Regions from separate parts of the Homo sapiens genome. Here regions 2, 3 and 4 are each reported to be linked to region 1. The links are microRNA targets in miRTarBase. Many come from high-throughput screens and were not tested one by one. Region 1 holds a microRNA gene; each other region holds the end of a gene's coding sequence.
The links. Region 1 holds the annotated microRNA hsa-miR-505-3p (CGUCAACACUUGCUGGUUUCCU, at 5,502-5,523, shown strand). A microRNA usually pairs through its seed, bases 2 to 8, with sites in the 3' UTR of a target mRNA and lowers its output. Matches are read on the target gene's strand: a 7mer-m8 pairs with bases 2 to 8, a 7mer-A1 pairs with bases 2 to 7 and ends in A, and an 8mer does both.

Region 1 (7,496 bases):
AGCTATGAATTCCTTTCAAAATGAGTTGTTTTTTTAGTGTACCTGTACGTGTCTGATATTGGTTTTGATTGTGAAATAAATTACAGTGGTGTTGATTGTAGTTGTTGGTTATTGAAAACTAGACTACATATTAGAGAAGTGCTTCCTTTATATTTTAAACCTGACGTGGAAGAATCCCTTAGGATTCTTACAAGCATCATCTTCTATAGCTCAGTTGTGTTTGCTGAATCATTTTTGAAATGCCATTTATTTTTCGAGTTTTCCAATTTCAAGCTAAAAGAAAATAGTGATTCATTGTATTTTTTTAAATACATGGTCTTGACTTCTTTGCCATTAATAACTGTGTTCCTTTCTTTCTGATGAATTATGACTTTCCTTTTGACAGTTTTGAGGTGGAAAGAAATTGGTGGATTTGGTGTATAGCATTTTAGGGTTGAGGCATGTAGAGGGTGTCCTAAAGGATTTAAGAGTTGGATGTCTCTGAGTGCAATAAAAGCACCACCTGTTCTCAAGTCAACATCTCCATAAATACAGTAAATAAGTAATAATAACTCTGTCTGTACAATTTATTTTCTTCAAAGGCATATTTAATCAGAAGTCTGGACTAGTTGAGATTTAAGGGTCATGGACTTTTATGTTATCCTGTCTTGTTTTATTCTTAATGCAATTCCTAGTGACTATAGTAACGTGTTCTCTTGGGTTTAAAGATTTATTGAAAGTCTAAAAACAATTCCCCCCTCTTTTTGGCTTATGAAATTATTTTATACTAAAGATTCAAAATAAGAGATTTCTTGATAAAGTAGGTTGGGGGCTTGGTCAAGAGGATGCTGTCAGTTTAGCTTGTCAGTGATAGTTAACAGGTATGCATTTCTAGACCTTTGATACATGAAAGCTTAATTGTGAGTGTGAAATACTGGAGTACATTTAAATCTCTGATTCTAGAAGCCCTTAAACTGCTTTGGTTTCATAAAGCATGTAGCATATAATCATAATATCACACAGAAGATGCCCAGGACTAGGAAGAAATTAGACTGCATAAGGAAGAATGGAAATTTAAAATAAGACTAAAAAATACAAAATAAGAATTAATGAAATAGGTAGCTAATTTATTGCTTTGAGTCCAAGGCAAGGCTAGTCTAATGAAGCAATATATGGAGGCAATTAAGAAAATAGTTCAGGTAATTGCTTTGTTTTTTCCCCAGGAGCAAGAAGGTTTTTAGTTTCCCCTTTAAACTATCAGAGTAATTAAACATTTTTTTTTTTCTGTTTCACTTTACTAATAATCCTGGCCTGACATTGACGAGCGGGAAAATATTGATTTTATTTTACTGTGTTTAGAAATATATCTGTATGTATGTATTGCAATATTTTTACATTTGCACAACTATTACAAATGGTCTGTGTATCTCGGCTCCCACATGGCTGTTCATAGAGGTCTAGGTTTAGCAGTTGAACTTGACCATACTTAAAAGCAACTTTTTTTTTTTAAATCATATTGTGTTATAATTGCCTTTTAACTTGTATGGCTCCCTAGTCTTTCTCAACATGGAGAGAATTGGCACTGATGCCCTAGGACATGCATTGTTAGTAATAAATTAACATTTTCCTGCGCAGCTGGAGTGAAGGAACCCTAATTGAGAAAGGCTGTCCTAGACAGGGACAGTTCACAGTGTGTTCTTAGCTCCTAGCACAGTGCCTGGTCCCTAGTAGGTGTTCAGTAAAATATTTTTTGAAAGAACAACTTTTGTATGTATCCCATAAATAATAACCTTTACTTACAGATAGTGATTATTGTAAACCCGCTCTTATGCAGAATGAGCAAAGAATGAGTTCTTGTTAGTTGGGGTATACCGTATACATTACTAGTATTCTAAGAATTAGAATAAATACATCTAATGCCGAAAGCTATACTGACCATAGTATAATCTTTTTTTTTTTCCTTTTTTTTGAGATTTATTATGGGAATTGGATCATGCAGTTACAGAGGCTGAGAAGTCCCAGGATCTGCCATCTGCATGAGCCCGGCCACAAAATATCCCCTTCTTTTATTTATTTTTATTTTTATTGTTATTTTTTTTGAGACAGAGTCTTACTCTTGTCATCCAGGCTGGAGTGCAATGGCACGATCTTGGCTCACTGCAACCTCCGCCTCACGAGTTCAAGCGATTCTCCTGCCTCAGCCCCCCTAGTAGCTGGGATTACAGGCGCCTGCCACCACGCCTGGCTAATTTTTTGTATTTTTTAGTAGAAACGGGGTTTCACCATGTTGGCCAGGCTAGTCTCGAGCTCTTGACCTCAGGCGATTTCCCTACCTCGGCCTCCCAAAGTGCTGGAATTACAGGCAAGAGCCAGCATGCCTGGCCTCTTTCTTAGATGATTAAGGCATTGTATGGTTTTGCAGAGCAATTATCATTCAGCAAATATTCACTGAGCACCTACTATGTGCTGGGCACTGCAGTCAATCCTGGGGTCGTAGATGAGCAAGACAGACAAGGTTCCTGTCTTCCTGAGCTGTAATTATCATTACATACACAACTATAGATATAGAGGGCATGGTAACTGCATTGCATTGAATACATTTGTGACATACCATGAAATTTGATCTTTGTGAATAAGTTACTATTACATACTTGTCATTTTTCTTTCTACTAAAAATAGATTGTACAATATCAGTTATTTTCTGGTTGTTTGGATGTCAGTTAAAAAGGAGTTTCTTGCATTTGTCTCCTTTCATCTGACCTACGCATGGCAAACTGCTCTTTTGCAAATAGATGCTAGGCTGACCCCACGCAAGGTGGGAAACTTATTTAGAAATGAACCACTGTAACTTGAAATAAATCTTTACACAAGTGAAAGCAGGTTTTGTCTTCTTTTTTCCTGATCTACCTTTTAGTGACTAAGCAACATAAAACTCTGAATGTGTCCTGAATACTTTCTGTAAGTGTTTACTGTTTGTTCCTTTTGTTTATGCTTATTGCTAATAATTCAGCCATTTAGTGAGTAATATTGAGTGCCTATATACCAGGTAGTTTCCAGTGTTCCTAATTAACTTTTAGCTGAATTGAGATTTGGGCAGGTGAAGCTGGCCATTTTTATATTGATGCAACTGTTCAAAAGAGCTTGTTTTTTCAAAAAGCTGCCAGTTTACCACCTGCTGAGCAGTGGGTTCTAGGAGGTAAAGGATGGCCAGTGGCCCCTGAAAGAACCATAACTAACCTTGCTGTGTCTGCATGATGTGCAAAGAACTAGCCCACTGAGTGAAATCAAATACTGGTTTGTTGAGTGATGGAAAAAATCAAGGCTCATTGCTTGTCTAACATGGTTATTCAGTTCTCTCAAAGAGGGTGAATGCATGGGATATAAAAAAAAAATACTATTTTTTTCTTCAAGGTGGTGGAATTTCCTGTACATCTGTAGTGCTTTATACAGATGAACCTTTTACATCTGGAACCCTCGAGACTGGGGGAGTTTTTCTGGTTAGGTGGAGGGAGGTTCTGGGCTTCCACAAATGAATTAGGTGCTGGCTCTCGAGTTTATTTCCTTTCACTTAACATTTACCTTCTTGGCCTGGTATAAGGGTAGATTAGCGGTGATCGTAAAACAAAACATACTGGCACAACTGCAGCATATGTTAACACTGCTGCAGCTTAATGATGAATGAGTGCTCAGCACTGCAGATATGGGCACAGGATGCCCTATGCCCACACATTGGCAGACAGCCCCTCAATTATTGCAGTGTATGGACGGATTACTGGGTCGGCTGACTTCTTGATAATAGAAGATGTGATTTATAAATGATAATGGACCGTGGATTTCCAGATTTAGAAGGTTAACCTGTATTTGTGAAGTAGAAATCATTGATTTCTTGTGCCATATGTATTTAATGGAATATGGGAGGATTGGTGATGTTGATGATATTGCTGTTCAAGCAGATATCATCATTTGTTTTTTAGACGTCTCTATTATATGTTGTCATAAAGTATTAATGTGGCAATGTTTTCCTAGTCCCTTTCTCTTTACCAAGGTATTCTTGGAAAAATCAGAAGTGTTCTTGAAAATGATCTTGCAGTTAGCACAGCATCAGGTAAACAGTAGATGTTCAATTAATACTTGTTTAATTGTTTTGAGCTGAATTGGTAACACAGTCTGAGTCAGTAATAACAGATGAAGAATGATCAGTTTAGGAAGCAGCCACCAAGAAGCTTATGCATTTCAGACTGGGCTACAAAATTAGCCAGGAGTGGTAGCACAGGCCTGTAATCCCAGCTACTTGAGAGGCTGAGGCGGGAGAATCACTTGAACCTGGGAGGCAGAGGTTGCACTGAGCCGAGATCGTGCCATTGCACTCCAGCCTGGGCAACAAGAGCAAAACTCCATCTCAAATAATAATAATCCTGTATGCTTACTATAAATACAGATTCCTGGGCCTTGAACTTACTGAATCCAAGTCTTGGGTGACAGACTCCAAGAAACTGTTTTTAACAAGCATTCCAAGTGGTTCTTAGGTTCACTAAAATTTGAGAACAGCAATATATAATATAGTAAACACGGAAATATTTATTTTCTGGGCACACTCTCTGTTCACCTTTTTGAACTTCAGTTTCTTCATCGATAGAATGGGAATAATAATACCTATTTCACAAGACTGTTGAAAAAAACGTTTGGTAGACTATTCAACACTATACCAATTGTGACAGAGGTCCTCAAAACCGGCCTAGGTTTGTTGATTCACTGGCAGAACTCAGTACATAGAAACGCTTGCGGATGTGATTTATTATAGCAAAAGGATACAGAGCAAAGTCAGTAACGGGAAAAGGCTCATTGGGGCCAAGTCTGGAGGAAACCATGTGCAAGCTTCCAGTCCTCTTTCACTGAAATCACACAGGTCATGCTTAATTCCTCTAGCAAATGAGTTTTGACAACTTGTGTGAAATGTCTACTAGGGAAGCTTATTAGAGATTCAGTACCCAGGGTTTTTAGTGGGAGCTGGTCACACAGGCACCCTCCACCTGGTACACAGCAAAATTCCAGACCCCAAGGAGGAAAGCAGGTATTCAGTGTAAACCCTATTGTTTACACAGCTTAAGCAGAGTGAGCCACTCTTATCAGGGTGATGGAAACCCTCCCAAAATCCAAGTCCCCAGACACCAGCCAAGGACCAACCTTGCAAACAGGCCTTACTAAGAATAGCAGTGTCAGGCCTGCTATGTTAACTCTTTCCATCACGCAAATATTGTGAAACACTGGTATTTTTTCAGTGAAAGGAAATGACTTGTCCAAGATCATTAAGCTAATCAGCAGTACAGCTGAGACAGACTCCCAGCAATCACATCTTTTCTTTGCTGCCCATAGCCATGCTTCTAGATTATGGGTCATTCCTTTTCATACTGTCATTGAAAGCACTTACTGTTTGTCACTTGAAGCAGAAGAGCAGCCTGCCGGTGGTAAATTGATGCACCCAGTGGGGGAGCCAGGAAGTATTGATGTTTCTGCCAGTTTAGCGTCAACACTTGCTGGTTTCCTCTCTGGAGCATCGCCAAGTTCGTGGATTTTCATTTTTCCTGACTTTTGGACTTTTGTTACTGCTCCCATTCATTTGCTCATAGTCCTAATACTCATTTGCATCATCACTTCATCCCATTCTATACCTTTTGGGTAACACAATTTCCAAATGGTGGGAATACTGCAGTATTTTGTCAAAGAAGACTATATAGGAAAAAAAAAATTCTGAGCAATGAATTTTATGGCAATATTTACAAATATTGGTTTATATCCTGGATTGTCTTTTGAGTTTTATAGTCATGGAAAACCCTAGGGATATCTCTGGTTATTTGGAGTTTCAGCCATTTTTACTGTTATAAAGGAAAATTAACAAATTTGTTATGATTGGAGCAAGGAATAAGGAAATCATACTGGATGGTGCAGTAATCCCACATATCGACAGGGAGTAGAAGCCAGGAGGGAATTGCCACAAGTAAGTAACAGCTGGGTAGAGCAGATTATGTAAGCTACACCTGTTGTGTAAGCAGTGGGGACGTTCTTTAAGCTTCACAATTAATGTATTTTGCAGTAATAAGGATTAAGGGATCTATAGTATAGTGTACAATTTATTCTGGCTTCTTTTCTGAAAACATTCATGTGAATCACAGCTTTCTTGGAACACTCATCCCCTATTTGGTGCTGTAGAGGTGTGTAAGGTACAGCCCTGCTCACCAGTAGCCTGCAGTTTGGTAGAAGAGAGAGAAGACCAGCACACAGGACCATCCTCCACACAAGGCCAGTAGGTCACCAGAGCCATCCTTTTGAAGGACATACACAGTAAGTGCAGTAGGCATTCAGAAGGAGGCACTGGCTCTCTGGCTTCATTTCTTGGGGAGAGCTTTATGGAGGAAGTAGCCTGTCAACTGGGCCTCTGGGGACCCAAAGGGCTGAAGGTTCTGAGATTTTAGGGATGGGCAGTCTCATTACAGGAGGAGGCAATTACCTGAGCAATGGTGCAGGGTCATTGTTGTACTTAAAGCATGGGAACCAGTCAATTTAGAGAACATACATGCCAACCCCAAATGAGTTTGAGCTGTTATAAAAAAAAGTATAACAGGTGGGGCTCAGTGGCTCACGCCTGTAATCCCAGCACTTTGGGAGGCTGAGGCAGGTGGATCATTTGAGGTCAGGAGTTCAAAACCAGGCTGGCCAACATGGTGAAACCCCATCTCTACTAAAAACAAAAATTAGCCAGGTGTGATGGAGAGCACCTGTAATCCCAGCTACTCGGGAGGCTGAGGCTGGAGAACTGCTTGAGCCAGGGAGGTGGAGGTTGCAGTGAGCAGAGATGGCACCACTGCACTCCAGCCTGAGTAATAGAGCGAGACTCTGCCTCAAAAAAACAAAACAAAACAAATAAAAAGTATAACATAGATTCAGTGGCTTATGCACAACAGAAATTTATTTCTCACAATCCTGGAACTTGGAAGTCCAAGATCAGGATGCCAGCATGGTTGGGTACTGGTGAGGGGGCTTCACGTCGCAGACTGGTGACTTATTGTATCTTCACATGGCAGAAAAAGAGTGAAATGAGCTCCCTAGGGCACTAATCCCATTTATGAGGGCTCCACCTTCATGGCCTGATCACCTGTCAGATGCCTCACCTCCTAGTACTGTCACCTTGGAAGTTAGGATTTCCACATAAGAATTTTAGGGGAACACAAACATCCTGTCCATGACACAGCAGAAACACCAAAACCTCGATCTTCAATGCCTTACGTTTGCTGTAGTAATTTTGATTTTAAAAAAGGAGATGCTAAAAACAGGTGGCTTTAGGTCTCCACAACAATAGCTATAGGAATCTTCCCATACATAGATGCTCTTTTCTGAAACCTATGACTCCAGTAAATTTATGTCATTTAAAAAAAATGCATATATATATATATATATATATATATATATATATATATATATATATTTAGAGAAGGAGAGAGAGAGAGAGACAGTCTTGCTCT
Region 2 (7,496 bases), not on the chromosome of region 1:
TTGCGATGGAAATGAACTGTGTTCTCTTTTAGGACCATAGAATTTTTTGGCTGATTACAGGAATTATGTTCATGGGAAGTGGCCTCATCTGGAGGCGCCTGCTTTCATTCCTTGGACGACAGCTAGAAGCTCCATTGCCTCCTATGGTATGAAGGATATGGTTCACGGCGGTATTGTGGAAGGGTTATGATCATGGGCCCTAAAGTCAGAGCGCCTGGGATTAAGTTGTCACAGGCACTATGGCCCTTGCGAGTTGCTTTCTCAAACTTCCTTCAGTTTCCCTATCTGTCAGTTAAGTCGGTATTACCTGCTTCATAGGGTTATGGGAAGAATTAAACAATATGTGTAAAGCACTTACTAGCACACTGCCTAACACAATAAGTTAGAAATATAATTTGTGTAGAACTCTGACAACATACATTTAAACAGATGTTAGTAATTCTGGTATAAGGTTTGTCATAACCAAATGGAAATGTAGGAAACATTTATAACGTTCTTAAAAGATAGAAAATTCACCTCCATTTTCTTTGTACTTGAAGATGGCACCACTGGAATAAATACTTAAGACACTGATACTGCTTATAGTCCTTTCTTCACTGAGTAGTTACATAATACATCATTTTACTAGTGGCTTTTCTTTTAAAAAAGATACTAAAATTAATACTTCTGCTTTATTTAGATGGCTTCTTTACCTAAAAAGACTCTTCTGGCAGATAGAAGCATGGAATTGAAAAATAGCCTCAGACTGGATGGACTTGGATCAGGAAGGAGCATCCTAACAAACCGTTAGGAACAGCCCCGTGGATACTGAAGTTTTTTTTATGGTAGTTACAGGAAACTTCTGATACTCTTTTTATTATTTTCTTGTATAGAGTCAGACACTTGAAAAAAACTAATGTTTGAAGACAAAAATATTTTGGCAGTCACAATACCAGAACTGGATTGCATTTCCAGAATTCTGAGTTAAAGAAACAAAGTATTTGCTTTGTAAAAGGCCAAAATTCTATTTCCTACAAACTTTAAATGCTGTTTTTATAGATGTGATATGAGGCAACACAAGCACAGACAGTTGCATAGATTTTAATTTATACATATCAAGAAAAGTGCAATTTCATGCTGAATGAAGCGTAGGAACTTGACAAGCCCATAGGTAGCTATAGTTCTTTGTCAGTATAGGGAATTATGTTCATGTGAATTTCCTGATTCTCAGGTGACTAAAAAGCTAGCATTCTATGTATTAACCTTACAACAGACTCTGTAAGTTTGAGCTTTAAAAACCAAACTTTGACATAACCTTATTTCTTGTATTTGCCCCCTTTTTTTTATAAAAGGTGAATAAAAAGAAATAATTTAATATCACCATTGTATGGATTCCTAATCAAGATTTCACGTTCTCAGCCCCTGAGACTAGTTTTCTTTGCTCTCTGTAATTAGAGCCTTTGGAAGCAAAGTTGAAAGGAAGTATTTCCATTCTGTTACTGTTTTGTAGCACTTTGTCCATTTATTGATTTTTAAAGTAGATATTTAGATACCACCCCTGCCCTGCCCCAAAAAGAAAAATGTTTATTGTCCTGCTAATCTATATGCCTACACCTCAGAAGCTGACAGATGAGCTTCCTAAAACATGAGGATGAATAAATGTTAGAACTGTGATATCTTCTCATTTCCACAGAGATTTGGGTTTAAAACAAATGGCTAATATTTGTAAGCCTGAAAGCTGCCATCCTCTTTAACATCCTACCTACCTTTTAAAATATTTTCTGGAGGTTAAGTACAGTTAGGCACTAGAACATTTGTTAAGCCTCCCAAAGTAGTGTGCATGGAAGATTCTAGAGTGTCCAGCTCTTGCACTACAAATGTAATAATAACAGAATAAATACACTTACCCTGATGATATTGAGGGTACATGATTAGCCTAATGTGATGTCATATGAGGAAGTTTAGGAGTCCATTTTTCAGGTGGTTTGGTGATAGGAATAAAAATGTTACTCCCGTCGCTGATTTGGAAGAAAACCGATGAAGTACAAGTAAGGTTTCCCCACTCCTGTGTGTGGTCATGGGAAGCCATTAGAGGGAAGCTGCAGAACAGAATGGAACAGGACAGGCTGGGCTAGACTCGAGCACGCAGTGGCCCCTGTGCCACCACACTGTGGGTCAGGAACACGCGTCATGGTGTTCTTGTCGGAATGTGAACATACAGCACCCTCTAGCATTACGAATCTCTTAGGATTTTTAAGATTGTATTTGATAATACTTATATTTCACAGGGCACACTTTTGGCACACCTCAGAGCACACTGCTGCTATTTTGGGTCGTATCACTGTAAAATACATAATAAGTACTACTTAACTGTGACATGAAGAATTGGAATCCCAGAGGGCAACATTTGATTTGACTAAGATCAGGCATAAGATAGAATTTTTGTCATTTTTCCTTGCAGTTTTATTGACTTAGTTTATGAGCTTGGATAAAATAATTTTTTGATGAATCATGTCAATAAAAGGAAAAATAATGTAACTACCTCATAAGTCTGATAAAAGGAAGTTGCTAGTGTTTTATAGAATTTCTGAAGGTGGTTAAATCAAGTATGATTTCAAAATATCAACTAGTTCCACTTTTGTGATTGCAGGATGCTTCTTATACTAAAGTTCTCATAAATAATAAATCAGCTTATGCCAAAAATATATGAAGTTCCTTGGTTTTAAATTTTGAACTAAAATGGACTGAGCACATTAATTACTGTTTGAAAGTAGGTACCAAACACTGGGTTATGTGAGTGAGTAAGCAATCATATCGCCTGTCAAACACATCAAGTGTCGAACACGTCAAGGTGTGATACTGTCTTTGGAAGGCTCCTAAACAAATGTGAGCACAATTATTAACACCTTATTCTTCATGAACACAGACTGTTAAGCAGCACTAACCAATTTTATATTAAAAAGCTATTTATTTTGGTGAGTTATTCCAAGAGTTGTATACAGCTTTATTTTTTGGAATTGCAATATTAAAGTTGCACGTTGGATTTAACTCTCATGACTTTAGTAATACCTACAGAGGTGAGCTAATGGATGGTACATGGAGTAGGGACTGCAGAGACCCTAGTTTTGTCCCCACTCCATCTTCAAATAATTTTGGTCTCTTAGGTCTGTGATACAAAGGCATAAAACAATTCCTATCTTGAAGCCTTGAGAAAAGCTGTTACATATACGCAGATAGTAGCAAGACAGAAAATGCAAATATGTAAATGTCTTCTGATATCTTGAAATAAAGATAAATTTCAGTTAAACTTGTATAAGTTCAGATTTCTGTTAATGAGAAATTACAACCCTACAAGGTAAGGTCTTTACATTTTAGTTATTAAGCAGAATCAATGCTTAAAACTATAGTTAATACTTAGTGGAAAGAAAATTTAATCCATGTATCAGGATAATATATTAGACTGTCATGCATTAATTTTTTCCTGTATGCCAGGTTTTTTACATACGTGCCATATCAGTTGACCTTTTACAGTAGGAGTATAATTTACATTGTTTTTGACATTGGGGTTAGTATGGTTAAATGTCCTATAAACTTGAAGCTTGCTTCCATTTTTGTGGGTCTTAACCTCCACCTGGTGCTTGCTATTGGGTGTATTCAGGCATTGAGAAAAATATAAATCGTGAGGTAAATAATGGTCATGTTTAAACAGAGGCCTTATCATTTAGTGAAGCATAAAAACTGACACTATATAAATGCATCCGTCTAATGAAAAGACCCAGTACTGAGAAAAACATCCCTTTACTCAAGTGTCAGATGTCAGAGTGCTCTAACTGCTCAACTCATAAGTGAATACAACTAAGTAATTTCTGGTCCCCTAAAAATAACCATCCTTTTAATTAAAAGTAATTCTTCAGATAGGTTGGGCTACCAATAATTGTCCCTAAACAAAACCAAATGGCGCTTCCTTGTGCTTTTGCTGTGCCATAGGTTACTATGCAGCTAGCACATGTACCTCTTCCAGAAAAATGAGGTCATCCTGGGAGTGACCCAGAGATGCTCTCTAGGGATGTACCTCTTGATGTTCTTGTTAACTTTCCACTCTTCAGCTGGATTCCTCTTCCTGTCCCCTTTTCACCAGTCTCTACTCTTGAGAGAAGCTGAGAAGAGAAGGGCTCTTCTCATTTGTTATTTTCTCCTGCTTTTAGTATCATCTCACCCGTGGCAGAAGAAAGAGGTTCTTCCCAATTTAACACAAAATAAACTAGTTACTGTTTACAGATAATGCCCGCTAATGTTTACTGAAACTGAAACCCTATGATACATTCCATTCCCTTAAGTGTGCCACGCTGCAGGACTGACAAATGAAATCCATCCTACGAAAAACAGCCCAGGAACAAGCGAGGCCAAGGCCTGCTTTCCTCTCCGGCCCTTACAGTAGCGTGTGGCTCAGGCCACATCTTTTCCCTCTAGTTCTTTTGGCACAAGTTGTAACCTAATGCGACAAAGGTCCCTCATGAGATGGCTTAAAACTAGCAGTGTCGCTAGGCTCTTTAGGTGTTAGAACAGCCAACTCTACAAAAGTATTGGAGGGCACAGAAGGGTGATAGTCTTGGTTTTTATATTTGTCCTTCACTATATAAACATTGAAAAGGTATTAATCCTCATTAAGAAAGGATTATCGGCCAGGTCCTGTGGCTCACACATGTAATCCCAGCACTTTGGGAGGTCAAGGTGGGTGGATCACCTGAGATCAGGAGTTCGAGACCAGCCTGGCCAACATGGTGAAACCCTGTCTCTACTAAAAATACAAAAATTAGCCGGGCGTAGTATTGTGCACCTGTAGTCCCAGCTGCCTGGGAGGCTGAGACAGGAGAATCACTTGAACCTGGGAGGCGGAGGTTGCAGTGAGCTGAGATCACATCACTGCACTCCAGCCTGGGCAACAGAGCAAGACTCCGTCTCAAAAAAAAAAAAAAAAAAAAAGGACTATCATCCTTAGCAAACTAACACACGACCAGGAACAGAAAACCAAATACCAAGTATAGCATGTTCTCACAAGTGGGTGCTAAGTTAAAAGAACTTATGAACACAAAACAACACACACTGGGGTCTACTTGAGTGGGGAAGGTGGGAGGAACAGAAAAGATAAAACCTTCACATGTACCACTGAACCTAAAATAAAAGTTAAAAAGGACTAAGTCACAAGTGATTTGGAATGTGAGGTTATCCCTCACCCCCATGCTTTACTCTGTACTATTTTTCCTCCCTCAGTTTCTTTTTTTTTTTTTTTTCTGTATACTATGCTTTCTATTATACTTTGATTGGCATGGGCCAATCTGTTATTTTTAAGTTCAACTTTTTTTTAACTTTTAAGTTCAGGGGTACATGCGCAGGAAGTGCTGGTTTGTTACATACATAAAGGTGTGTCATGGGGGTTTGTTACACAGATTATTTCATCACCCTAAGTATCCATTAGTTATTTTTCCTGATCTCTCCCTCCTCCCACCTTCCGCCCTCTCATAGGCCCCAGTGTGTGTTGTTTCCCTCTATGTGTCCACGTGTTCTCATTTAGCTCCCACTTACAAGTGAGAATATGGAGTGTTTGGTTTTCTGTTCCTGCAATAGTTTATGAAGGATAATGGCCTCCAGCTCCATCCATGTCCCTGCAAAGGGCATGATCTTGTTCTTTCTTTATGGCTGAACAATTCTTTTTTTAAAAAAGGATGTTTTTAGGAGGAATTGTGTACAGAGACTGTTCTAACAGATAACCACAGAGGGACCTTTCCAGCCATTGGAAAGACATTCAAGAGGAAGAGGAAATAGGTTGTACAGCAGGTCTGACTACAGGCAATAAGTTGGGAAAGAAGAAAGGTTTAGATGCAAAGGGAGCGAGGAAGTAAACTGTGGAAGGAGACATGAGTAAGCAGAATGTCTGCTATTTCACATATTTCTGGTGCAGTCATATATTTACTGTATCAGATTTCCAGAGGGTGTGGCTGTTAGTGTGTCTCTCTACTCCCAGGAGCCCCATGTCTATCAGGATCTACCACCGCTCCACTGGATGTGCCACTTTGTCCATCAAAATGCTCACCATGGATGTGATTCAGCATGAGAGAGGTGGGCAGAGTGGGGAAATGCAGTGAAATCTTCAATCTGAGCCAAGGCTATAGACGTGAAGTGCCCCGGAGAGTCGGGCTCCCAAAGAACTCCTTCCAGCAGCAATGACGACTTGGTTCTGTAAGGGACACAAGACAGAATTCATGGCTCATTCATAACATCTATTGAGTTCCTATGGTAGTCCAGGCATCATGCTATGCTCTAGAAATATAAAGATGAATAAGACACTGGCCAGATCCCCTGGCTTGAACTCAAATGCCACTTTCCCTTTGTTTACAGACCGCTTTCTCACATCTATAAGTTCTGAAAACCGCAGCTAAGGATGCTCACCCCAATCCCTATTCTGGCACATAAATCATAAAGGAGAAGTAGGGCAGTGCATGCTTAGTTCTGGTACAATGTGGAAAACATATCTTGAATAGTAAGGACTTCCCCTAGAAGCTGGCTTTGTCAATGTGTTTAGCGTACCTCCCACCTACCCTGCTGCTTAAAACATTTTAGGACCCATCTTTCAGAATTGCCTTCAAAACCTGCTGCAAGTTTTTAAAACATTTTCTTCTTTTTTGAAACAGAGTCTTGCCCTGTCACCCAGGCTGGAGTGCAGTGATGTGATCTCAGCTCACTGCAACTTCTGCTTCCTAGTTTCAAGTGATTCTCATGTCTCAGCCTCCCGAGTAGCGGAGATTACAGGCATGTGCCACCACATCTGGCTAATTTTTGTATTTTTAGTAGAGACGAGCTCTCACCATGTTGGCCAGGCTGGTCTCGAACTCCCGACCTCAAGTGATCCACCCGCCTCGGCTTCCCAAAGTGCTGAAATTACAGATGTGAGCCACCATGCCTGGTCTTTAAATATTTTCAGTGGTGGCAAATCTTCATACTCCGAGGTCGGATTTGATTTGTGGAAACTGACAAAAGTTATTCTGAACCAAAGCTGGCACATGAGGTACGGGTGATCAAACTGGCTGACAGTATTTTGGTCAGAGCAGGATATGACAGTTTCTTATTTAATTTTGAAAACTACTGATGAAATCTAGAAATAATAATAATAGCTAAAATTTGTGGAGGTTGTATCATGGGTCAGACACTATGCTTAGCCCTGTGCTTATCTTATCCCTTAATACCCAGTGTCAATTAATAGGGAAAATCTACACTTAAGAAAACAGCATCAAATGGTACTTTATTCTCCCTCTCTTTCCCAATTTATGGAATTACTCATTTACTAAATTTGCCTGGCCTTCGGCTTCACTCTGTTTTGTCAGAGTCTAGTCATCTTTCCAGATGCAGCTCCGGGCCCATGATCTCTGCAGGCCCTTCCCTGACTCCACCAGCAGAGACTTCTGCTGCAGTTGCTGTCTGACCTCGTTTGGCTCTTGGTCATCATACACCAAACTGGATGG
Region 3 (7,496 bases), not on the chromosome of region 1:
CAGCGGTATCCACTCATGGCCTGTTTGTTTCATCTCCATCCCTACCTACTACCCCCATCTTTTTAAGTAAATTCAAAACATCATGTTATTTCATCTTCAAAGAGTTTAGTGTGCATTTCTAAAAGACGGGGCTTAAAGAAGAACACATACAACTGTAATAACACCATCACTGTCATATACTCTTTAAAAATGTATTTATGGCCGGGCGCGGGGGCTCACGCCTGTAATCCTAGCACTTCGGGAGGCCGAGGCAGGCGAATTGCCTGAGCTCAGGAGTTCGAGACCAGCCTGGGCAACATGATGAAAGCCTGTCTCTACTAAAATACAAAAAATTACCCAGGCATGGTGGTGTGTGCCTGTAGTCCCAGTTACTCGGGAGGCTGAGGCAAGAGAATTGCTTGAACCTGGGAGGCAGAGGTTGCAGTGAGCCGAGATCGCGCCACTGCACTCCAGCCTGGGTGACAGAGCGAGACTCCGTCTCCAAAAAAAAATATGTATTCACTCTTTCTAATTGTATAAATAATGCTTGCTTATTGTGAATAATTTGGGAAATAAGGAAAAGTTTTTCAAAAAAAGAAAAATAATAAGAAAAAAATCTAGAACGTCATAACCCAGAAATAACTTCTGTTAAAGTGTTGGTGTGTTTACTTCCGTCTCTTTTCTTTCCACAAAGATACACACACATAATTGGGATCATGATGTGTATGGTTTTGTATCTTGCTTGTTTTGTTTAATTCTCTATCATGCCCATCATGAGCATTTCTTCATGTCATTAAAATTCTTCAAAGTCTTCATCCTTAATGATCGCAGAATCACGGTGGAAATTAGTAAACTTGCTGGCTTGTGTGAGGCCTGCCCTATATACACTGGAGCACAGCTAACTCCCTCCCCTGAACAGTGAAAATGTGTCCCTGGACCCTAGCGCAGCGGAGGCCAGGCAACCCTAGCCCATGCAACGGGCAGCATCCTTGGCCTGCTCGTGGCTCTGGGCCAAGCACACAGAGCTCCAGGCATGCCTAAACCCCTCCGTGCCTCAGTTCCCTCGCTTGTGAGGTGAAGATCCTCCCACCTGCCTCCGAGAGCTTTGGCGAGGTTAAATGAAGCACCTGGGACCTACAATTACTCAGGCCTAGCTGTGCTCCGATCCAAGTCTGTTTCATTTCAAAGCCTGCCTTGAAGTGCCTTTTACTCCCTCTCTGACAGTAGTTCCCGGACCATGATGCCCGTTTTTTGGAACTGTGTGGGGATCTTTAAAAGCTGCTGATGCCCCCAGCTACTGGGATCTGGGGAGTGCAACCTGGATAAAAGGTCCCAGGTGATTCTAATGTGCAGCAATACTTGGAAACCGATGCCCTGAGTGTTTCTGCCCCTCAAATAGTCCCCAGTCTATGTAGCAGTCATTGATACCTGAAATTCTAAAGCAAACCCTTCCAGCTTCGCCACTAACTCTTTTTAAAATGCCAATATCCCTGAGAAGTTGTACATATTAAGCCCACCATCGATGAGCTGATTCATCACCCTTCGAGGTTCCTTTCCAATATCATAAGTAGCTACAGGCAGGCCTGGGTGGGACTAGGGAGGAGGAGTTGGGCCATCTGAGGTCAGGCCTCTGTGTGGGGAGGGCAGGCCCGTAAGGGAGAGAAGGGTGGCCTGAGGTGGGTCCCTGAGAAAGGAGAGGAGCAGGGTGAATGCGCCGCAGAGACACTGCTTCCTGCTGATCTGGAGGCCTCTTAGGCTCCAAGCAGGCGCCCCAGCCTGGAGTCCCTCCCCTGACAGAGCTCCACACCAGGATCCTGGGGGCACCATCAGGAAATCAGGAGCTCCAAATACCAGGGAGGGAGGGTCTTACAGGCACAGACCTTGCCACACCAGGGAACATAAAACTCTGAGCACGGAGGTGCACCCACCTGTCCATTAAGCAGGGAGCTCCAACCCTGCTCACCACTGGCTGGCCGGGACCTGTACATAGTTTGTTCTGCCTACACATTTGTTTTTCAATTTGAATTAGTTATCTACATTTAAACATATTCAGATTTCCAGTTTATCTTGAAATAAGACCACACAGGGCCCAGGGTCTCACCCTGGGCAGCCTGCACTCCTCCTGGCAGAGTGGGCGGACTTCAGGTGCCACCCATCCCTGTGGCTCCCAGGTGAGCTTCCTGATCCCGGCTGGCTGGGTTAGCAGCCCCCCTGACACCATATGTGTTCAAAAGGGAGCCTACCCTTGGCTGCAAGGAGTTCACAGTTTATGCTGGATGAGCCAGCACAGCCAGGGCCACCGTGGGCAGCCCACAAGAGGTAGCCTAATTCCCAGTGAGGCAAGAGAGGTGGGGAAATGAGCCTGTAGCTGGTGATTAAGAGACCTGGGGAGGGTGCAGCTGGCCAGCTGGTTCAGGCCGCATGCTGAGCACCTGTGCTAACCCTGCTACCTCTCTTCTTCTGGCAGGGACTGGTGGTGGCCGTCCTCTACTGCTTCCTCAATGGGGAGGTGAGTAGTCTTGGGTCACCCAGGTACCCAGGAGAGCTCCTAGCCATTGGTTTCCGGGTCAGAAGGAGCTACCTGGGAGGGGTGGTAGGAAGGGGGATGGAAAGGGTCAGAGGGAGTCCTGGGTCTGGTGGCAGGTGGCTTGGCCAGTTCTTTTAGGAGTCTGAATTTGCTTAATGGGAGCAAGGCTTGTTCAAACCATGGCTGGACCCTGTTCCTAGTTTCTCATTCCACAGAAATAAATTCTGTAGGTCTGGACTGGGGTCTGAGAAAGTGTTTTTTAACAAGCATTCCTGGTGCCGATGTTGATCTGTTCAGCAAATGCAGGAGGAAAGTTGGGCAGAACCCAGGTTCCTGACTGCCCTGCTGCTTGCTTAATGGGCGATCTCAGTCACTGCCCTGTTCTGGGCCTCAGTCTGCCCATATGTGAAACGGGTGACTCAGAACTGTCTGCAGCTCAATCCTTAGGGACCTCCAGATGAGCACTGACTCCTTGGGAGACTGCACACTCACTTTGAGGACTCGAGCCTCACATGGAGCATCTGGGTCAGGACCCCAGGCTCTGGGCATACAGAGCTATGTGGTTAACATGAGCTAAGGCTTTCTGTGACTACTGACCATCTATCTGGTTTGTTGCACTTGAATGGGAGTGATCTTTGATGTTTCCCAAAAATCAAATATCAAGCCTAGCTTCAAAGGTTCAGCTGCTGCAGCTGGGAATTGTGAAGGAAATTTACAAAGAGAAACTCCCTAGTTCCCAGATCAGTTCTGAGCTTGGGTGGCTTCCTGGGAATAAGTGGGGACCCATCTTAAATCACTTAAAATCACTGGGGACCCATCACTGAGTGGAGTCAGGCCTTGCCCTACCCACACCTTCAGACCACACCCTCCTCTAAGCTGGCCCTCTGCCCAGTAGCCCCTGTCAGTGCCCCAGACCTTCAGAGAACTCAGCCTCTGGCTTAATCCGGGATTCTTTTCCTCTCAGCCTGGGGGCCAGGGAGCTAGCTTTCCCCACCACTGCTCTTGTAATGTCAAGGGCACACACTTGTCCCAAGGTGCACAAGTCCTTTCTTTAAGACACGATGTAATGAGATTGCAGGTGCATGTGCCCAGGAGAGAGGGGACCCTCAGTAGCTACTGGACATTGGGGCTGGAAACAGTCAATCTGCGTGGCCTGCAGGCTAGGGGACAGGGCAGCTGGGCAGGAGTGGCAGGGCCTGCGTGGAGTCACTGGGGGAGTGAGCAGGGCTCCAGGCACAGAACTGTCCTCTCCTCCTGGGCTGATGGCTGGTCTCCCGGGCAGGTGCAGCTGGAGGTTCAGAAGAAGTGGCAGCAATGGCACCTCCGTGAGTTCCCACTGCACCCCGTGGCCTCCTTCAGCAACAGCACCAAGGCCAGCCACTTGGAGCAGAGCCAGGGCACCTGCAGGACCAGCATCATCTGAGAGGCTGGAGCAGGGTCACCCACGGACAGAGACCAAGAGAGGTCCTGCGAAGGCTGGGCACTGCTGTGGGACAGCCAGTCTTCCCAGCAGACACCCTGTGTCCTCCTTCAGCTGAAGATGCCCCTCCCCAGGCCTTGGACTCTTCCGAAGGGATGTGAGGCACTGTGGGGCAGGACAAGGGCCTGGGATTTGGTTCGTTTGCTCTTCTGGGAAGAGAAGTTCAGGGGTCCCAGAAAGGGACAGGGAAATAAATGGTGCCTGGGATGAGATTCAATCTATATTTGTCCATCCTTTTGCCTTGACACAAGGTGAGGGTGTACGCTCTTGCCTGCTCCCAATGCCTTCCCGCAGGAGGCGGGCTCCTCCCTGGTCCCCCAGCTCAGTTACTCAGGGACCAGATTAGAAGGCCCAGCCAACATGAAATGTTTGCCCTTGGCGGATGCTGTCTGTCTCCTACTGTAACTCACCTGGTTAGCAGCTCTCACCCAAACCTTCAGGACAACAGCTAAAATAATATGATAAAGTCACCACGGAGGCCAGGGAAGCCCCAGGGCCCCCAGTCCCTTTTACTATCCCCCCTTTTACTACCCCCAACAGGGTGTGAGGGGGACACCCCTATTTTTCCTGCTCTTCCACACAGATGTCCTCGGCCTGAGGCAGACACAGCAGGAAATGGGGCATGATCCCATTTCAGAGAAGACAGGTCCACCAAAGCCCTGTGACTTGCCCAAGCTACTAAGCAAAGAGGTGGCGGAAGTTCAGTCCAGGGCCTTTGACTTCAAATGCCCATGCTCCAAGGCTGTGTCTGTGCTCTCCCTGCTCCCAGGCAGGGAAGGACAGGGGCCATCTGCTGCCCCTCTAAGCTCCTGGGGACTTCAGTCTCACCCTCCACTCTCGTTCTTGGTTCCTTTGAATATCTGCACTCCCTGCCCCCATGTGAGGATGAAAAAGGACTCCATTTTTGAACGCTTCTGCAAAACCAAACCTACTAGTGCTCAGGGGGTAGCGTTCTGGAGGGAAGTAGAGAAACTCCCCTCCGTGTCAAGGAAAAGGCATCCTGCTGGTGGGTGGGTCAGCTCTACTCCCAGCTTTGGGTGACCCTGGACAAGTGCATCCCTCTCTGGGCCCTGACTCCCCACCTCCATACATCCCCTCCCCGTGAAGAAACCAGGGGGTTACACATCCCCTTTGCAACTTGTAGATTGCTCCAGGTTCCCATTTCCCAGGCTAAGATGCCGCCAGTGTGGTTGATGAGCTCTGTACTCTGTAAAACTGAGCAATTCATGGAAACCTTTCCAGGATGATCTCCATGGACTCTGGGCACCTTGGTGGTTCAACCTTAAAGCCCATGGCCTTATATCCTACAAAGCAGACAGCTTCATGACTCCATGCATCCTGGAATAAAAAATTTAAAACATCACAATAGACGTAGGTATAGGCACTCAGCCCAGACCAGGAAAGGAACCTGCAGCAGTGACAAGACCGGGGCAGAGACCAAAAACCCATGCAATTGCTGGGAGCCAGAATTCAACAGGTGAGGGAATGGGAAGGAGTCAGTGTAGAATGAAATGGGCTGAGGGCAATAACATCACCTACTTCTGGGCAGAAAAAGGACTAGAAAGGGAGCACTTTAATGAACAGAAGTACAGACGTGCTGGCAAGGATGGAAATCTCCACTGGTTCCTGGCCCCCTTCACCTCCATGCATCCCCAGCATGGGTGTTAATCATTACCCAAGCTCTCGCTGTTCCCCCTCACCCCCTGCAGAGTCCAGCAGGTCTAGATACGTGCTCTTTGAAATGTGTTCTGGGATTAAAAATGGTGCCCTGAGGCTGTCTAACCCTCACAAAAGACAGACACATGCACACACGGGCCTTGGGGAGGGCTGTGTATTAGCAGTCAGGTGGGCCCTCCTGGGAGAGCTTGCTCAAGAACTCTTCTCGGAAGGAAACCCACCTTAAGGTAGGGTTCTGATAGGCAGAGCTCCCAGAGGCACAGCCAGCTGCTAGAAGATGGGGTTATCCAGGGTTTGTAAGGTTTAAACAACGGGCAGGGAGGCAAACCGAGTCAAATGGTTTGGAAACCTACTGTGTGCAGGGCATTCTGAGGGAATCCTGAACTCTGCCTCTTTGGCATGACCAAAGCTGAAGCCAGGGACATACATACGAAGGCCCTTTGAGCTGGTGGAAGAAAGTCCTAGGCACTGATTGGACCCTTAGCTGGAAGAATGATCCATTCTTAACAACCCTGGGAGCCCCAGGGATTCTGCAGCCCCTATCCCAGCACGTGTCAATGAAACAGGCATGAACTATCCTTGGCTGTGCAGCTAGCTCAGGTACCAGTTACCCCTGTGCTTCCAACTGTATTCCAGTCCAGGGAAGAAAATTCAAGAAGGAGTTTTAAAATGTTTTTTTCTTCCTCTAAAATCAACATCTGGCTAAGCCTGTGCAGTTGGTGGCACTGAGGCACCCTCCTGGCCTCTGGCCCTGCAGACCAGGTGCAGAGGCCCCCGGGCCATTTCTGGCTGACCACCCACAAGTTATCGGCAAACAGGCAGCCGTTTCAAGGCCCTTGTCCAACCCAGCCCCACCAGAGGCCACATGCTGGAAAAGTCCCATTTTGACCATATTTTCTTGTGGAATCTGATGTCCCTGGAGGGGGCCTAAAATTTCCACGGTCATTCCCAGGGATGGGTGATGCTGTTGATGTGAAGGCCGCTGATGGCGTTCAGGAAGAGGAGGAAGGAGGCAGTGAATTCGCACCAAAACATTAGGGTGAAGCCGATGAGTGTGACTTGGTTCCTGAGGAGGATCACAAAACCCAGGAGCCCGCCGGAGGAGAGGACGAAAGACACCAGGAGGAGGATGGAACCCATGACCCACTTGCACTGTGAGTGTTTGTCCTCGCACAACTGGGACACCATGAGGAACTCCAGGCCAAAAATGGCGGCCACCACGGCCAAGGCGCCCACGCTGCGTACCAGGCCCATGCCCACGGCCAGCCCGGGCACATGGGCCTGGCCCAGGTCTCTGAAGCAGATCGTCTGGTTGGTGGTGGTGCAGAAGTGCCAGAGCCCGAAGAGGCGGTCCTCAGCCAGGAGCCAGTGCCCATCACAAATGGAGACCGAGGACAGGACCACAGCCAGGGCCACACACGTGATGATGAGGGTCCGGATGAAGGATTCAAAGAAGGACCGGCGGGGCTGCCTTTGGCCCAAAGGCCTCTGGGCCTGGAAAAAACCGTAGGAAGCACCCTGTCAGCCACAGCCCTGCCACGCCCCCAGGAACCTCTGCAGGGAAGACCCCTGAGCCCTCCATCCTGCTCCGCACTGTCTTATTCTCTGCTTGGTCTCCTGTGAAGCCCGGAACAGACCAGACCCACCGTTTGGGGGGAACCCTTCCTCCCTTCCAGACCTGTGAGCATTTACCATCCAGTATTCACCAGGCACTAAGAGCTTCCTGACCTTTCTTTCTTTTGTGATCTTCAGAGTGGGTGAGAAGTCCAAACCGACTGGCAAATCTGAGTCAGTTCTGAGTTCAGAAAACCTGTCGTGCCTGCATCCCATGAC
Region 4 (7,496 bases), not on the chromosome of region 1:
GTGTGTTAAAACCTTTAAGCCTCTTGCTAGCGCTGCCTTCAGCTATGTGGGCTCAACAGTGAGCATTTTGAGAGTTTCATATTGATACGAGGCGGCTGGGGAAGGAGCTCTGTCTTTCTCTTTTAAACACACACACACTCACACTCACACACTCACACACACACATCACTGGGGGATGGGGGTGGTAGTGGTGGGAATGGGAGTGAAGGGCCGAGGAAACTTGATGGGAAAGTGAGGGACTGTCTAAGCCAAAAGAGCTTTTCAGTTCTTCTCAATTTGGACAAAGCCACTTTTTGGCAAATAGATGCCACCATCTGCAGGTGGCCGCCTCCATGCTGCTCTCGTATATAATTTGGGCATGGTGGGGCATGGGTGTTTAGTAGGGGTTGGGGGAAGCAAGTAGAGAGTTCAGACTCTTAAATAAGTTGTTTGCCAGAGCAGGCTTAGATCTGGGCACTGTGAAGTAAGCGACCCACCCTGGGGGGGCGCCACTGTAATTGTCCTCGGACCACTGGGCGTGCCACCTCTGTGGGACATCCCTTAGGTGACCTCAGCTTGGGTGTGAGCATTAGGTAACTCTCTCCCTTGGCATCTGTGCCCTCTATTCACAGATAACTCTCTCCCCTGTTTCTAGGAGAAAAAAAAAGTGCGTTCGCTACATACAAGGTGAAGGCAGCTGCCTCAGCCCACCCTCTTCAGATGGAAGCTTACTAGATTCGCCTCCCCCCTCCCCGAACCTGCTAGGCTCCCCTCCCCGAGACGCCAAGTCACAGACTGAGCAGACCCAGCCTCTGTCGCTGTCCCTGAAGCCCGACCCCCTGGCCCACCTGTCCATGATGCCTCCGCCACCCGCCCTCCTGCTCGCTGAGGCCACCCACAAGGCCTCCGCCCTCTGTCCCAACGGGGCCCTGGACCTGCCCCCAGCCGCTTTGCAGCCTGCCGCCCCCTCCTCATCAATTGCACAGCCGTCGACTTCTTCCTTACATTCCCACAGCTCCCTGGCCGGGACCCAGCCCCAGCCGCTGTCGCTCGTCACCAAGTCTTTAGAATAGCTTTAGCGTCGTGAACCCCGCTGCTTTGTTTATGGTTTTGTTTCACTTTTCTTAATTTGCCCCCCACCCCCACCTTGAAAGGTTTTGTTTTGTACTCTCTTAATTTTGTGCCATGTGGCTACATTAGTTGATGTTTATCGAGTTCATTGGTCAATATTTGACCCATTCTTATTTCAATTTCTCCTTTTAAATATGTAGATGAGAGAAGAACCTCATGATTCTACCAAAATTTTTATCAACAGCTGTTTAAAGTCTTTGTAGCGTTTAAAAAATATATATATATACATAACTGTTATGTAGTTCGGATAGCTTAGTTTTAAAAGACTGATTAAAAAACAAAAAGAAAAAAAAAGCAATTTTGAAGCAGCCCTCCAGAAGGAGTTGGTTCTGTATTATTTGTATTAAATACGAGCTTGCGAACCAATCATTTTACATCTGGTTTTTAAACCGTAAGGGCACCATGAATGCAGTGCCGTTACTTTTTTTTTTTTTTTCTGTGTGAAACAACTCTTATTGTGATGTTACTTGTTATTGTTTAAATGTACAGAAACAAAGGGTAAAAATGTGTTAATATACCTTGTTCCATGGTGTTGTTCTTTTGGGGGGAGGGGACGCTACTCAACACTTAATAGAATCACAACGCTGTTGGGCCAGTAGTATTTATTGCTTTAGAGATTGCTTGTCGTACCTGTATGTCGTCCCTTTTTAAATATGTTTTCCTTTTTCTTGAAACTGTATAAAGTTTTTTTCCCCCTTAGCATAAGCATCTTATATATAACAACTCATTTGTACAAGGTTTTTAAGTTTATATATAAAATGTGTATATATATTTTTGTTTCCCCTTTTTGACTTTTTTTTTTCTGTATGAAACCCAGATGTCACCAAATGGACATTAATAGTTGCATTAAGGATCAGTAGCATTAACAAAAGTTGCTTTAAAAGCCATTATGTAAAACAAGACTTGAAAATGAGTGAGGGAATTTTAGCGACACTGTCTGAGCAGCAGTGGGAACCATCTTCGTTTCCCCTTTGAACTCCCAGTGGGATGCCCTACCCTGCGCCCTTAGGACCCGGACTGACCGTGTACAAAACTTTACGTGCCAAAATTCTCAGTGAATTTAGCTTTCTCCCTCTTTTTGATGCTGTAATTTTTGTTCATCATGTTTTGCTGTGATGTTACATAGGTAGATTTGTATGTAGTTTTAATGTCACCTATAACAAAATGTGTTTGGTAGCAGATTGTCCAGAAAGCATTTTAAATGAAGAGGTATAAACCCTTAAGGGCCAAAATTCTGTATATTAGATTACTCTTAAACGAAAAACCAGCTGCCGCTTTTATGTACACATATTACATACGAGTAGGCAGCAGACTTTAAAAATAAAAAAAACCTAGGCATGTTGATGTTGCAAAATGCTGTATAAAGCTGAAACCTGTTCATTCAGTGCCATTGTAGTTGACATGAAGCGATTGTAAAACTGTCTCCGATTTTTCTCTGGTTTATTAAAATGCTAACTATAACATTTTTTGTGAATACTTTGAATGTTTCCTAACAGTTGTGATGTTACTGTTCCGTTTTATGCTCTTATTCCAAGTTCATTTTTAATGGTTTGGAAGCCATTTTTGTAATGAATAAATGTTCATGCTGTACAGTATCTGTAGCATGCCGTTCTGGATTAATAAAAGCAACTTAGTATGTGCAGATAAAGGCTGGTCACTTGTTTCTGTGATTTGGATTTTTATCTCTAGGGAAACTGGACCTACCGTAATCAAGAAAAACATATTCCCACGTTGGAACTTGACCATACAGTTAGTGTGTAGGTGATGACTTAGATACCAGAACGTGGTCTTGGACTCTTTTGAGGGGTTGATCCCCTCCCCTCCATCCTCGTGGCCCATTTGGTGTATCTGGTTTGCATAATGTGTCATTTGCAATGGAGATGATCAGTATCAAAGGGGATCCCTGGTGTGTGTCTTCTGTAGTATTTCACCGTGCCATTCCCAGTAGTTTGTTGCTGAAAGCAAAGCACAGTTACAGAGCAAATGTCACTTTTTTGGGGGCTATAAACCAGTTTCTCTGAAATATCCTACTCATCCTCTCACAGTAGCAAGCAGAAAGAATTTAATTCTGGTGAATGAGACTTAGTCCACCAAGAGTGCACTTAAGAAACCACATCCTTAGCAGTTAAGGATCATGGGTGTGAAAGCATCCTAACCTCCAAGAGTTGCATCCTGGGAGAGATGCAAGGGTATCAAACTGCCCTTTCTCTAGCAGTGAGCGATTATTGAGTAAGCAGCTTTTTAGAAAATTGGATTAAGGTGATGCACTGAAAGGTGTGTGTGGAAGGGCCTTGCTGTATGTGGGATCCAAGTGTTCTGGCTGTACCCTGGTAAGAGCCCAAGTTCATCACCATCACTGAGCAGGGGCCATGATACAGATCTTCCCTAAGGTTTCCCCTGGATTTCATTTCTCTTGCTGACTAGATGGATGGATGGACACATTGTTCCATTTATCTAGGACATTTATACCTTCAAAGGATGACGATTTCAATGGGCATGGAACTGTTCGTGTTGCCGTTGTGGTTTCTTAAGGTGACCACAGTATCGCATCAAGGACTTAAGAGCCCCTCGGAAACTGCTTTGCTCAAGCAAGTTTTTCTTCTGTAAAATCTCGGCATTTTGTTTTTGCTTTGCTTTGTATTCCCAGGGAGGAGTGTTTCTGGTTGTCCTTCCTCATTTTATTTTGCACACTGGGCCGAGTGACCTTTGAAAACACAAATAAGAACAGTATCTGTTATTCGTGGCAGTGTGCCAAGCTGTTTATGTGCATTTTCTCATTTAATCCTAACACTACCACCTAAGGCAGACATTCTTCTCCTCCGCCACCCTCTGCTTCATTTTCTGAAAATGGATTTAGAAACTGAGGGTTTTAGGTGCCTTGTCTAAGGCCACACAGGAGGTGGTGGGGCTGGGATTTAAATTCAGATCTGACTCCGGGCCCCTGCTCTTAAATAAAGACAGCCCTTCCCCTCCAAAACAGAAGTGAGGGAACAGTCCTTTCAGAGGATTTCCTTGATTCCCCCACCTCCTCTGCCTCACACACTCGCTCACTCCCTTTCCTCTCTGGCTGTACTACAGAGTTAAGCTTACCTAAAAGCATTTTTGCTCTTCCTGCCTGGAAAACAACCCCTCATGCTTCAGGTCTTGACGAAGACGTCCCTTTGTTGGGGGAATTGGTCCGGAGCCCCTGAGGGTTGCCTGTCTCCCTCCTGTGTGGTCTTTCAGGCCTCTGTCTTCTAGTCTCCTTTGAAAGTGGCTGTCGTCTGCTTAGGTCATTCCAGCCTCACCGTGTTTCTCAACCTCAGCACTCGTGACATTTTGGGCCAGATAATTGTTAGTTGTGGGGGTCTGACCTCTGCACTGTAGGATGTTATCAACACCCCTGGCCTCCACCCACTAGATAACCTGTCAGCGCTTGCCCCACCGCCAGTCATGACAGCCAGAAACGTCTCCAGACATCGCCAGATGTCCCCTGGGGGGCAAAATCACCCTCAGTTGAAAACCATTTCTCTAGAGAGCCCTCCAGGATGACAGGATTGTGGCTTTCGTGCCACTGCTGTATGCTAGGGTCTTGGTTTAGTGCGGGGCACACAGTGGGGTGCTTGATATACATTTTTTGAAGGAAAGAAGGAATGAGGTTGGCCAACTCAACACTCGTATTGTAGGAAGCAGCAAAATGGAAACTTTCCATGAGCCTTCCAAATTTTGTGTTCTCACAACTTTCAGGGTGGTGGTGACCTTAATCCTTTCGGCCATGCTGGGATGTAACCCACTGCCCTTGTTACAAAGGCCAGAAAAAGGGCAGGGGGGTCAGTCCCTCTGCTGTCAGCCAGCCCGAGTGCCGATCTCTATAAAAATCAAAATGGGGGTCACCAAGTCACACGCTTGCCTGCCTTACAACACCTGGTTGGTACTTGGAGGATCCTTCCACCCAAGATGGAACTTCCTTTCCCCCAGGCCTGTGTTCTCAGCAGCCCAAGCTCTAGTCTTCCAAATGCCCAGCCAAGTCTTTGCCCTTCGGCACTTCCTCTCTCTGTCTGATTTCTTCTTACCTCAAGAGTTTCTTTTCAAACTCAGCATCTTCTAATTTCATCTGTAAGAGTGGATCTGCGGGTTTTTTTGTTACTAAGAGACCCTGAAACAACGTCTGGGAAACGATAACTCTCACTTTCCCAGCCACATCACTTTCGGCCTCTTACGGGGCTTAGCCAAAGATGTTTGCATATTAGTAGGGCGTATGTTTCCTGTGGCTGCCGTAATGAATCGCCACAAATGTGGTGGTTTAAAACAACAGAAATTTGCTCTTGCACAGCCTTGCAAACCAGAAGTCTGAAATCAAAGTGGTGGCAGGGCCGAGCTTCCTCCAAGGCTCTGGAGGCTAATCTGTTCCGTGTCTGTTTCAGCTTCCAGTGGCTGCCTGTAATCCTTGGCACTCCGTGGATTGAAGCCACATCACTCCAATCTCTGCTTCCATCTTCACATCGCTTTCTCCTCTTGTCTGTCCCCAGACACCTTCTGCCTCTCTCTTACAAGGATACATGTTTTTGTATTTTGGGCCTACCTAGATACTCCTGGATAAATATCCCTTCTCTTCAGATCTTTCACTTAATCACATATTTTGCTATATAAAGCAATACATGTTTTAACAGGATTTGCATATGGACATATATTTTGGGGGGGCCACCATTCAGCCCACTACAGAATCATTCTCCAACTGCTGAGTCTCAGCACAGAACCCTTCAGAATGGGCAGTTGTTCGTTCCACTATTGGTGGTGGTCTTGGATAGGCCCATGTGGAAAGCAATTTTTACAGTACATGGCATTTCATTTCAGATATTAAAAGGTTCGTTGTTTTTTTTTTTTCCTGATGATGTGGATTCACATAGGGTCAGAGAGCCTTGGACCTGGATGCAGGATTTCGAGAAAGTAAGTAGCTTGGAGCAGTGGAGTGAATCTGAGCTTGGAGGATCCCACATCTGACTCTCTCGCCGTGTGTCCTTGGGTAATTCCTTCATCTCTCTGAGTCTTTGTTTCTTCACCTAACAAGTGATGATACTGGTGTTCATCTGGACAGATTTGTATGAGGGCTAAGATGCAAAGTTGCTAGACTAGTAGGTCATAGTGTTTATTATTAATATAAAAGCCAAAGGCCAGTCTTCTATTTGTTTTCATTATTTCTTTTTTTTTTTTTTTTTTTTTTTGAGACGGAGTCTCATTCTGTCACCCAGGCTGGAGAGTGCATGGAGTGCAGTGGCACAATCTTGGCTCACTGTAATCTTCTCCTTCCAAGTTCAAATGATTCTCCTGCCTCAGCCTCCTGAGTAGCTAGGACTACAGGCGTGTGCTACCACGCCCGGCCAATTTTTGTATTTTTAGTAGAGACGGGGTTTCACCACGTTGGCCGGGCTGGTCTTGAACTCCTGACCTCAGGTGATCTGCCCACCTCGGCCTCCCAAAGTGCTGGGATTATTGTTTTCATTATTTCTCTTTGGGATTCTGCTGGTTAGTCCAGCTCTTCACACCCAAGTAAGAGAATCACAAAGATCTAGATGCAGAAGACACATCTACATGACCCAGGGACAGACATTGTGACTCATCCACACTCATTCATTTTACCTGCAACTTAATGGCCTTAGGAAAATGACTTCTAGTCTCTGGGGAGCCACAGCCCTGTCTGGGTTGCTTTTTGTGATATAGAAATGCGGCATAGAAACGTGTTTTCAATTAAAGCCCTTTGCAAAGAAATTGAGGAGTAGCCTAAAAGCCTCTCGTGAACGGTGCCTGAGGCAAATGTTGCAAACCAGAGCTGGGAATCACGAATGAACAGGGCCACAGATTGGGTTTTCGAAAGGATTCCTATCTGAGGTTGGCTTCTTTGTCTCCCATTCCATATCTGGTTCCGCACTCCCAGGCACCTGGCCATCGGAGAGGCCTGCCGTGAACTCTGGCCTGTGTCCGATGGGCAACACTGGTGAGTTCTGGCTCTGAAGCTGGGTTTTTAAAAGCTAGTACCTCGTGGATACACTTGATGGGAGATGTAAGCACTTTCATTCATTCAGTGACTATTTCTTGGGCACCTGCTTACACCAGGGACTGTTCTAGGAACTGGCATGTAAGTCTGGGTGAAGCCAGCTTGGTCTCCAGTTTTCCTGGGTTTATTTCTGCACCATCTTATAGGCTGGAGTTTTTAAGGAAAGGGAACACCAACATTCCTGAGGCCTGGACAAGCCGCTCACCTAGAAAGACATTTTATGTAAGGATAATAACAATAGAAATTGCTAAAAACTCGACTTGCATTTCTCTTTTAATACTCATGGGGATGGAAATTGCTTTTATGTTCATTTTACAGATGTAGAAAGTGACACTAAGAGGAGTTAAGTTGCTTC

Region 2: miRTarBase lists GPLD1 as a target of hsa-miR-505-3p. The part of its 3' UTR that is shown has no 7-base or 8-base seed match.
Region 3: miRTarBase lists TMEM37 as a target of hsa-miR-505-3p. The part of its 3' UTR that is shown has no 7-base or 8-base seed match.
Region 4: miRTarBase lists TCF7L2 as a target of hsa-miR-505-3p. Seed matches in the 3' UTR shown: 7mer-A1 at 2,506-2,512.

What each region holds. Positions count from the first base shown.
Region 1 is chrX:139,922,187-139,929,682 of GRCh38, reverse strand. MIR505 (microRNA 505) reads left to right here and starts at 5,452; the gene lies at 5,452-5,535. All of the region lies in intron 1 of ATP11C (ATPase phospholipid transporting 11C (ATP11C blood group)), which reads left to right.
Region 2 is chr6:24,422,905-24,430,400 of GRCh38, forward strand. GPLD1 (glycosylphosphatidylinositol specific phospholipase D1) reads right to left here. Exons shown (of 25, transcript NM_001503.4): 25 at 2,928-6,214. The coding sequence ends at 6,128. MRS2 (magnesium transporter MRS2) reads left to right here. Exons shown (of 11, transcript NM_020662.4): 10 at 33-146; 11 at 680-3,286. The coding sequence ends at 790. Among named protein-coding and RNA genes, the nearest start is that of MRS2, 24 kb to the left of the region's middle.
Region 3 is chr2:119,436,550-119,444,045 of GRCh38, reverse strand. TMEM37 (transmembrane protein 37) reads right to left here. Exons shown (of 2, transcript NM_183240.3): 2 at 5,542-7,157. The coding sequence ends at 6,606. It overlaps SCTR (secretin receptor), which reads left to right. Exons shown (of 13, transcript NM_002980.3): 12 at 2,447-2,488; 13 at 3,789-4,203. The coding sequence ends at 3,929. Among named protein-coding and RNA genes, the nearest start is that of TMEM37, 8.4 kb to the right of the region's middle.
Region 4 is chr10:113,164,921-113,172,416 of GRCh38, forward strand. It overlaps TCF7L2 (transcription factor 7 like 2), which reads left to right. Exons shown (of 15, transcript NM_001367943.1): 15 at 635-2,758. The coding sequence ends at 1,052. Among named protein-coding and RNA genes, the nearest start is that of SNORA87, 120 kb to the left of the region's middle.